2 separate regions of the Homo sapiens genome follow, and region 1 is reported to be linked to region 2. Evidence: microRNA targets listed by miRTarBase, many of them from high-throughput screens and not tested one by one. Region 2 holds a microRNA gene; the other region holds the end of a gene's coding sequence.
Evidence for each region. Region 2 holds the annotated microRNA hsa-miR-4748 (GAGGUUUGGGGAGGAUUUGCU, at 2,938-2,958, shown strand). A microRNA usually pairs through its seed, bases 2 to 8, with sites in the 3' UTR of a target mRNA and lowers its output. Matches are read on the target gene's strand: a 7mer-m8 pairs with bases 2 to 8, a 7mer-A1 pairs with bases 2 to 7 and ends in A, and an 8mer does both.

Region 1 (5,383 bases), not on the chromosome of region 2:
GAACAGCATGTTCAAAAGCACCGGGCTACAAAAATGCAAGGAATGTTCAGGAACTCACAAGGAGGGAAAGGAAGCCAGCTGGCTGGCTAACAAGCATACCGTAAAAGTAGTGCCAGCAAAAGATGGAACTTTAATGATTCCAAGACAGGCAGTTGAGGCAGGACTTGGTGACTAATAGGAAATGCTGGATGAGGGAGAGAAATGAATTGCTAATCTGAGGTTTCTAGACCAAAAATATTTTTAAAGATAGAATATTAAATAAGACAAAGTGCAAAGGCAGGTTAACAAGGAAAGCTTTGTATAGTTGTGGACATGCTTAGTATATACCTGTGGAACATCTGGGGGGAAGCGCCCTGTGGGCTTTTGGAAATTCAAGTGTAGAAAGTAGATTTGGAGTCGTCAGCAGGAGATGATGAGAGGCTGAAGCTAATGAAAAAGTGTCTATTTGTTACTGTGCTTTTATAATACAGACGAGGTGTACCAAAATCCCTTTGTGAAACATCTCCCTCTGCTTGATAAAGGTTAGAGCACGATGCTCAAGAATAGTGATGTTTTCTGTCTTGGTTGCTGTGTAACTTGAATACTATAACCAGCATCTTTTATATAAGGTTTCCTTATATGCTTATATGTAAACATATATATAAGGAAAGCGTTTATATATGCTTTCCTTAATAATATTTGTAACAGTATTTTGTTATGACAGAAATTTGTAAACAGTAATTCAGTTGGGGGATATCTGGGGTACCTTTTCATTGTAAACATGACCACGCCTTATTCAGCTCACTGCATGCAGAATGTGCTCCTAGGCCACAGGCTTATAGTTTCTATTTCTTACTCCAGGTTTCATCGTCCATAACGAAGAGTGAGACTATTTGGAAACAGAGACTGATCATCTTTGGGGGAAGCCCTGCTTCCTGAAAACCTGATATTGCACTGGGATTTGAATGTGTGTGTTTCCGTTTAACTTGTGGTGAAGGAAGTGTGTGACTCAGCTTGGCTGGGAAGTGCTCCTCACCTGTGTGGCCCAGATGGCTCCAACAAGCAAAAGGAAGGATGCAGTGACTCTTGCTGCCCAGAATGCACAGCGATGGTAAGAGACACCGTGGATATTCTTCATCAGAAGCTTTAATCAAAGAAGATGAGCAGAAGACAATCACTGGCTCCCTGTTACCAGAAAGCCAAATTTTATAATGCGGGTGAAAGAAAAATATAGATTAAAATTGCTGGGCACTGAAAAGGGGTGGGAGTTGGAAATCAGAAAGAAAGAGAAATATTTCATTATGTTAATGAAGAAAAGAGAAAATTGAAGCATAAATGTATTTTTGAAGTAGTTATTCGGTAGCTGAGAACTTATTAAGGGATTTAGGAATTTAACCTCCTGATGTGGATTCCTCAAAGACTTGATCGGAGAATACTCTTGTTTCACCATTATGTTGGTACAGTATAGTACCATTATTTTATGTTGTGCCAGTGAATCCAGTTGCCAGAAATAAGTCTGAATGTTTTCATGCATCTTTTTCTTAAATGCAAGAGCTTCTACTGACTCTTAACAAGCATGCTTACCCAAATTTTGTTGCATGCTTTTAAGTAGCATTAGCTATGCACACTTGACATTTTTAAATATCCCTTTCCTAGTGTACCAGCCTTCACAGGATAAGAGGACTGGGAATAAAGTCAGATGTAATGTGACCCTAGAAAACTGTAGCAAGCTTCAGAAATAAATCTTTTGATCTTTCCCTATCTTGATTAGATCCAAAGTCAAAGCAACCATACTTCACCTAGAGAAGACAGTATTGGCAATCATGACACCTGTAATAAAAACTTGAATCCAAAGTCAAAACTTAAGCAAGATACAAATGTGCTGCCTGCAGTTAGTCCTGCATGGGAATAAGGACTAGTTATTTTTTTAGTGCTGCATTTTTTTAAAGTTGGATTGCTGCTATTTAAAAAAAAAAAAAGGACACAGATCAAAAAAACACCCAAAGGCTTAACAGAACATGGAAAGTTCCCACTAAGTTGTGTGTGAGGAAATCCTCATCTTGTATTTTAAGAATCTGCAGATGGCATCCATAGATACAGTACAGTATTTACTGTCAATGCAAAAGAATCAGTGAGGTTAAAGTAGTGGAAGTTTTCCCTATGAGCCTACAGTCTGTATTGTTTACATTAAGAAACTCTCTATTATTGTGTTGCTATTTTCCATGGAGTCACAGGCACACTATGACTTCTGCTCCCAAATACATATGACCATATGTAAATACCACCTTGCATTTCATTGTTCTTCACAAGTGCTTTGTGCCCCTTTAATTAAAAACACATGAAATGAATAACAAAACAAGACCCAAATAGAGTTTATTTTATTCTCAGAGTTTGGACTACAATTTTCTAAGATGTTTCTGGTTCAAGACTGTCATTTTCTATTTCAACCGAAAAGTAAGCATTTAACCCGGTGAATAAATGTAGATCCTGCCATTCATTGGTATTTTAAAGAACCACTTGAAATCGGATCATTTTATTTAAAAATAAAAAATGTTAATGCCAGTTGGCCTACTATAAAAAGCCAGGACCATGTTAGAATTAGGAAAAGTAACCAGCATTACTGCACCTCTTGTTAGACTCTGTGCATTAATAAAACACACCTAGAGTCTGTTGTCATTTCACTAATAGGATAAGACAAATTTTTTGCTTTGAAAAAATTTTTCTGCATGCCCAGGTGTCTGTCTCTGGCTGAGGTTTTGTCTATTTTACAGTGTTTCAATCCAGCCATAAAAATTAACTTGTGATTTTTTTTTTCCCAAAGTCATGCTTTTCCTTAATTATATTTTTATTTTATTATTTTAGTGTCTTGAGAAAAATACCAAGAGATATAATGTTTCTTTTAATTGTCTATGCTTAATCATCTTTAAACACTTTTTAAATTTCTAACCACAAGACCTCTCTATAATGGTAAATGTAAGACATCACCATTTTATCACTCAAAGTATGTTATTGAAAGTTTCTATTTGGTTGATAAAAGGAACAATTTTTTCCCACTTTTGATGCCTGTGATGCAATTTTTTATTGCCTACAATGAGATACACTTAGTACAAAAAATGAAAATCTGGTATTTCAAAATTGCATTTCTTGTATAATAGGTCAGATTTATTAACTACTCATACTTTTTCTTTACACTAATCGATACATTTAGAAAAAATTTTCTAAGTTAGAGACAAGTTTAAAAGTAAAAAAAAAAAAAAATTAGCCACTGCTAGTCTACTGTTTAGGTAATCGGAATCACCAATTATTTTATTAGAATGATGGCTTGAGTAAAAAGCTGTGGAAAGAATTAAAGGATTATGAGCTAAGCTGTATTTTGCAGAATATGGTTCTATTTTAGTAGAGCAGAGATGAGACATATCCCCACCGGCCACCCAGCCAGAGGTCTCCTACCTGGGGGCCCTAAAGGGATGCAGAGGTCTGGCCCACCCTCCGTGCATAGGCACCTCTGTCCACCACCAGCGTTTCAGCAATCCAACCAGTAAGCATATGCTGTATAGGAAAAATAAAAGTGTGTGGGAATTGGATTTCTTTTGTTGTAACACAATTCCAGGTTTTTGGCTATTTAAAGTTTGACATTAGGCTGACATCGAGGAAGTAAGTGGGTTTTCCTGAGTTCCCAAGATATGATTAAGGAAGAAAACAAACCCATCTCCAGGAAGATCCCAGGCAGGAAAGAACTAGACAGATGTAGAAACCAAAGTGACCATTTTAGTTTTTTTATTGGAGAATAAAACATTAATATTAGGGTATTAAGAAGATGCTCAGCAAGCTTGATCAGAATCTTCATGGTCATTACCAATCAGTCTGACAAAATAGTTCTCTGGTAGTCAGCATTCATTTAAGGCAGCTTGCCTGATAATTTCCTGTGTTATGTGAAGTGTCTTGCACTTTCACATGTTAGCTATAATTCCTTAAATTACTTAACTGAAATCTGTAATAGAGAACCATTTTGGCATTTGAACAGCTATTTTACATGGAGAAAAAGCAAACACATCTGTTTGCTTTACCCAGAAAAACTGACTTTCTGGTTTCATCTTCATATTGTTTAGTAGCATAATGAGAGTAGTCCTTTATCTTTCTCTAATGTTAGTAAATATATTCTGTTAGTAGGAAGTTCTGAAATTGAAGGGAAAATATATTTAAGGAAATAAAGGAATTCAATACACCCTTCAAAAGTCACCAAATACTGAAAATAAGAGATGAGTCCTTAAAACCTGAGTCAAAAAAGGTCCAGTTTTACAGCCTGCAATTAATTCAGGGCTGCGTTGGCATTAAAAAAGAAAATATATATATATATATATATATATATATATATATATATATATATGTATATTATATATACAGTAGCTTACACTTAAAAGAGGAAAAATTTGCATTAACATTGCATATTCTGATATGTACCATATTAACACATAACAGGCATTTTATTTATGCTTCATAGAATCAGACAGACACAACTTTCAAAAATCTTACTGTATTCACAATAGAAAAGGGTAGTCTTGTCTACCACAGAGGAGTATGTCCACACTTAATAATGAAAACTTTCTTCCTTTCCTGCCCAAAAATTTCTTCAGTCTGTTATTATTTTTAAGTGCCCCTTGCTGCAAATTTCAAACAGAGCAAGAAATCTTCCTCAGAGTAGGTGGTATGAAATTAAACTAGTACAATATATATGAATTCATGTCATTTACCCCTGAGTATGGTAGAATTGTTAAAGCATTCTTAAATTCCAATTATATGAAGCCTATCATTACTAGGAAAAGTATATTCTTTGGGATAAGAATTAATTTCTTCACACTATTAGAGCATGTTGTGAGTAGTAAGGAACTACTTAGATGCAATTTATTTACAGAATTGTCCCTTGACCTCTTGAAATGGCTAGATCTTTCACTACTGTGTAGGTAGTCTCTACTTACTGGTAGGATAGATTACATTGCTTTACTGGACAAAGCAGAATGAACTTATATAACTAAAATATGTCCTATATTGGCTGGGTGCGGTGGCTTACACCTGTAATACCAGCACTTTGGGAGGCCAAGGTGGGTGGATCAGTTGAGGTCAGGAGTTCGAGACCAGCCTGGCCAACATGGTGAAACCCTGTCTCTACTGAAAATACAAAAAAAAAAAAGTATCTGGGCATGGTGGCTTGTGCCTGTAATCCCAGCTACTTGGGAGGCTGAGGCAGGGAAATCGCTTAAACCCGGGAGGTGGAGGTTGCAGTGGGCCCAGATCGTGCCACTCCACTCCAGCCTGGGAGACAGAGCAAGACTCCATCTCAAAATAATAATAATAGTAATAATGAATAAAATAAAATAAAATATGTCCTCCAGGGAAAAGCAATGAC
Region 2 (5,383 bases):
CACCGTAACTCCTTCTTTCTTTTCCCTTTGAGCTATGTATCTTTTTCTTCTGATTTGTATGCATTCGTTTTTCAAGTGCACAATTAACACCTGCTGGTTTCTGAAACATTAGAAAACAAGTGTATAGAAAGAGGAAACTAAACTCACCCGCAGCCACACTTCCCCCAGACAGCCACTGGTGAATCTGCAGCTCCCAGCTCCCCAGGGTTTATAACTTTAATTAATTTTTTTATTACTTTCTATTATGAGCCTTCCCTTCCCTTTTCCTTTTCCTTTTTGTTTTTTGAGACGGAGTTTTTGCTCTTGTCACCCAAGCTATAGTACAGTGGCACAATCTCAGCTCACTGCAACCTCCGCCTCCCAGGTTCAACTGATTCTCCTGCCCCAGCTTCCTGAGTAGCTGGGATTACAAGTGGGCACCACCACGCCCAGCTAGTTTTTGTATTTTTACTAGAGACGGGGTTTCACTGTGTTGGCCAAGCTGGTCTCAAACTCCTGACTTCAGGTGATCCACTTGCCTTGGCCTCCCAAAGTGCTGGGATTACAGCCATGAGCCACCGCACCCGGCCTATTATGAGCATTTTCAAACATTCCCAAAAGTGTGGAAAAAAGTTCAAAGAATCCTCGTGGATGGCTTCCCCAGCTTCGGTGGTTATTATTATTATTTTCTTCCTGGAATATTTTATTTTTTCATTTTATTTATTTATTTATTTATTTATTTATTTATTTATGAGACGGAGTCTCTGTTGCCCAGGCTGGAGTGCAATGGTGCAGTCTGGGCTCACTGCAACCTCCACCTCCCAGGTTCATGCCATTCTCCTGCCTCAGCCTCCCGAGTAGCTGGGATTACAGGTGCCAGCCACCACGCGTGGCTAATTTTTGTATTTTTAATTGAGACAGGGTTTCACCATGTTGGCCAGGCTGGTCTCGAACTGCTGACCTCGTGATCCACCCGCCTCGGCCTCCCAAAGTGCTGGGATTACAGGTGTGAGCCACCGCACCCGGCCATCTTCCTGGAAGATTTTAACACAAATCCTAGGCACTGGCTGGGCGAGGTGGCTCACGCCTGTAATCTCAGTGCTTTGGGAGGCTGAGGCAGGAGGATGCCTTGAGGCTGGGAGTTCAAGACTAGCCTGGGCAACATATCAAGTCCCTGTCTCTACTAAAGATTAAAAAGTTAGCTGGGCATGGTGGCATACACCTATAGTCCCACCTACTTAAGAGGCTGAGGTGGGAAGATTGCTTGAGCCCAGGAGTTCGAAGCTGCAGTGAGCTATGATCACACTACTACACTCTAGCCTGCACAACAGAGCAAGATCTTGCCTCTAAAAAAAAAAAAATTCTATAAATCCTAGGCATTGTAGCATTTTACACATAAATACCCACATTTCTTTTCAAATACTTCCCCTTGCCATCCCATTTGTTTTTTTCTATACCATTCATTTGTGGAAGAAACCAGACCACATCCCACATTTGGGATTTGGCCAATTATTGTTCTCTGTTAGCTGGTAATTAGATCAGGTTCAGGTTCAAGTTCAGGTACAGATCTTCTGATAGGAGTAACCTAAGTATTTTTTATTTTATTTTAAAAATATTTTAAATATTTTGGGTCGGGCATGGTGACTCACACCTGTAATCCCAGCACTTTGGGAGGCCAAGGCAGGCGGATCACAAGGTCAGGAGATCAAGACCATCCTTGCTAACACAGTGAAATGTTGTCTGTACTAAAAATACAAAAAATTAGCCAGGCGTGGTGGCACACACTTGTAGTCCCAGCTACTCGGGAGGCTGAGGCAGGAGAATCGCTTGAACCCAGGAGGTGGAGGTTGCAGCGAGCTGAGATGGCGCCACTTCACTCCAGCCTGGGCCACAGAGCAAGGGTCTGTCTCAAAAAAAAAAAAAAAGAAAAATTTTTCAAGCATTTTATTTTATCGGAGCAGCAGTTTTAGGTTCATAGCCAAACTGAGAGGGAGATACAGAGATTTCCTATCAGCCCTATAGCCCACACATCTGTAACCTCTCCCACTTTCAACGTGCCCAGCAGAGCGGTGCATTTGCTAGAACTGATGAGCCTGCGTTGACCCATTGTCACCACCCCACCCCACATCCATGGTTGACATCAGGGTTCACTCTTGCTGTTATAAGTTTTTTTCTTTCTTTCTTTCTTTCTTTCTTTCTTTTTTTTTTTTTTTTTTTTTTTTTGACGATGTCTTATTCTGTCACCTAGGCTGGAGTGCACTGGGACAATCATAGCTCACTGTAGCCTTAAACTCCCAGGCTCAAGTGATCCTCCGAGCTCAGCCTCCCAAGTATTTGGGATTACAGGCATGTGCGATTGCTCCTGGCTAGGTTTTATTTTGTTTTGTTTTATTTTTTTCAGACAGAGTTTCATTCTTGTTGCCCAGGCTGGAGTGCAGGGGCACAATCTCAGCTGACTGCAACCTCTGCCTCCTGAGTAGCTGGGATTACAGGCACTCGCCACCACACACAGCTGATTTTTGTGTTTTTAGTAGAGATGGGGTTTCACCATGTTGGCTAGGCTGGTCTTGAACTCCTGACCTCATGTGATCCACCCGCCTCAGCCTCCCAAAATGCTGGGATTAAAGGCATGAGCCACCGTGCCCAGCCTTCTTTTGTGTTTTTTTAAAGCCATTCCTCCCCTCTGGCATCTACTCTAAGCTGCGGGCACCTCCTGCCTTTCCCTTCATGCTTAGCCGCAGTCATTTAGAGCATTTCTTTTACTCCTGGGTTTTCCACCTCGATGTCTGAGATAGATGTGGGGAAAAGTTCAGACCTTGGTTGCCAGCATCCCCCAGCACTGCTGAGATATTGAGTGGTGAGGCGACCCCGGATCCCAGGGGAATGCTGTCAGGGCTAAATTCAAAACCCTGTTTAGCTGTGAAGATCCGGGGCTGAGAAGCAAATCTGTGGCTGGCTGAGGTTTGGGGAGGATTTGCTGGTGCTAGAGAGGAAAGCAGACCCTACCCAACCCCACGCCCTACTACAGCCACCCCGACCCGGCTGCCCTTGGACACTGTTAGGCCTCCATCTTGGATCCTAAGGGCCTTTGGGGTCTGTGGGCACTAGCCAGGCTGAGGATTTGGTGATATGGGCCTCTTCCCCTTCCTCCTGACTCACTGATGTCCACAGCTGCCCTTCTCTGCCTTCCTTCCTGTTTCTAAGAACGAAGGCGCTTCCACTCTCAGCTCACTTGTAGGCCTGCTCCCGTTTTGTGACCTCAGGCTTCAGAAGCCCTCCCACTGGACCCTTTTTCCTGGCGTACTAATGACTCACAACTCCTCCTCCTTTACGGGAACCCAGGCTAGGCGTGGTGGCTCATGCCTATAACCCCAGGATTTTGGAAAGCACAGTTGGGAGGATGGCTTGAGGCCCAGAGTTTGAGACCAGCCTGAGCAACACAGCAAGACCCCATCTCTCTCTTAAAAAATTATCCAGGCTGGGCACAGTGGCTCACGCCTGTAATCCCAGCACTTTGGGAGACCAAGGCGGGTGGATCAAACCCCAGCTCTACTAAAAATAGAATTAGCTGGGTGTGTTGGTGCATGCCTGTAATCCCAGCTACTCGAGAGGCTGAGACATGAGAATCGCTTGAACCCAGGAGGCAGAGGTTGTAGTGAGCTGAGATTGCACCACTGTACTCCAGCCTGGGTGACAGAGTGAGACTCTGTCTTTAAAAAAAAAAAAAAAAAAAAAAATCCGTGTGTGATGGTGCACGTGCCTGTACTCCCAGCTACTCAGGAGGCTGAGTCCGGAGGATGGCTTGAGCCCAGGAGTTCAAAGCTGTAGTAAGCTATGATTGTGCCACTGCAATGCAGAATGGGCAGCAGAGCGAGACTCCATCTCTTAATTAAGTAAATCAAGCCAAATCCAAGCCAGATGCTTTTTACTGGCCCCTGCTGTTTCCTTCTTTGTGCTGTCACACAGGTGATGGTGACTCTGGCTTCACAGGGATCTAGGTTCAGATCTTGGGTCTCCTACTGTGACCTCACCTTGGCATGTCTTCGTTTCCCTCCTCCCTCTTGGATCCAAGAGAGATCTGGCGAGGATGAAGAGCAGTCACATCCCACAAGACCCTACAGGATAGATGACCGGCACCTCTCCCTTGCTTCTCAAGAGAAACATGCACAACCCCACTACAAAGAAAAGGGAGCACAGGCCAGGCACTGTGGCTCACGCCTGTAATTCCAGCACTTTGGGAGGCCATGGCGGGCAGATCATGAGGTCAGGAGTTCGAGACCAGCATGGCCAACATGGTGAAACCCCGTCTCTACTAAAAAAACAAAAATTAGCCAGGCGTGGTGACGCACGCCTGTAATCCCAGATGCTCAGGAGGTGGAGGTTGCAGTGAGCTGAGGTTGCACCACTGCACTTCAGCCTGGGCAGCAAGAGTGAAACTCTGTCTCAAAACAAAAAACCCCACAAAACAAAAACCTAGCCAGGAGTGCAATGGTAGGCATTCCACTTGGATTCTTTGCAACAGTGTGTATTGAATTATCCAGCTTTTCTCCCCCATATACTGAAGCGTTAACTTTCAGTTCTACCTCCTTCTCGGTGTAGTTTTGGACTTTCTTTTCAGTTCCATTGATCTCTCTGGACATGAATACCCTGATGTACCCAACTGTTTAAAATATACTCGTTTGATAGTGGATTTTAGCTCTTCCCTATTGCTCTTGTTTTTAAGATGTTATTTCTTTTTTTTCTTGTGAGACAAGGCCTCGCTCTGTTGCCCGGGCTGGAGTGCAGTGGGGTGATTACAGCTTGCTGCAACCTCGAACTCCCAGGCTCAGGTGATCCTCCCATCTCAGCCTCCCAGGTAGCTGGGACTATACACGTGTGCTACCACGCCTCGCTAATTTTTGTATATTTTTGTAGAGATGGGGTTTTGCCATGTTACCCAGGCTGGTCTGGAACTCTTGGGCTCAAGCGTTCCACCCGCCTCGGCCTCCCAAAGTGTTGGAATTACAGGCGTGAGCCACCGCACCTGGCCTTGAGATTTTTTTTCTTTTTCTTTTTCTTTTTCTCTTTCTTTTTATTCAGAGTCTTGATCTGTCGCCCAGGCTGAAGTGTAGTTGCATGATCTTGGCTCACTGCAACCTCCGCCTGCCGGGTTCAAGCGGTTCTCCTGCCTCAGCCTCCCGAGTACCTGGGACTATAGTCACGCGCCACCATGCACGGCTAATTTTTTGTATTTTTAGTAGAGGCGGGGTTTCACCATGCTGGCCAGGGTGGCCTCGAGCTCCTTACCTTGTGATCTACCCACCTCAGCCTCCCAAAGTGATGGGATTACAGGCGTGAGCCACCGCTCCCGGCCGAGATTTTTTTCTCACCTATCTTTGAATCTCAGCTTGTAGATTTCATCTGC

Region 1: the mRNA of PHACTR2 is a reported target of hsa-miR-4748. The part of its 3' UTR that is shown has no 7-base or 8-base seed match.

The regions. Positions count from the first base shown.
Region 1 is chr6:143,822,834-143,828,216 of GRCh38, forward strand. It overlaps PHACTR2 (phosphatase and actin regulator 2), which reads left to right. Exons shown (of 13, transcript NM_001100164.2): 13 at 841-5,383. The coding sequence ends at 856. Among named protein-coding and RNA genes, the nearest start is that of LTV1, 18 kb to the right of the region's middle.
Region 2 is chr19:10,777,326-10,782,708 of GRCh38, forward strand. It overlaps MIR4748 (microRNA 4748), which reads left to right and starts at 2,929; the gene lies at 2,929-3,010. All of the region lies in intron 5 of DNM2 (dynamin 2), which reads left to right. RefSeq lists an enhancer at 30-379.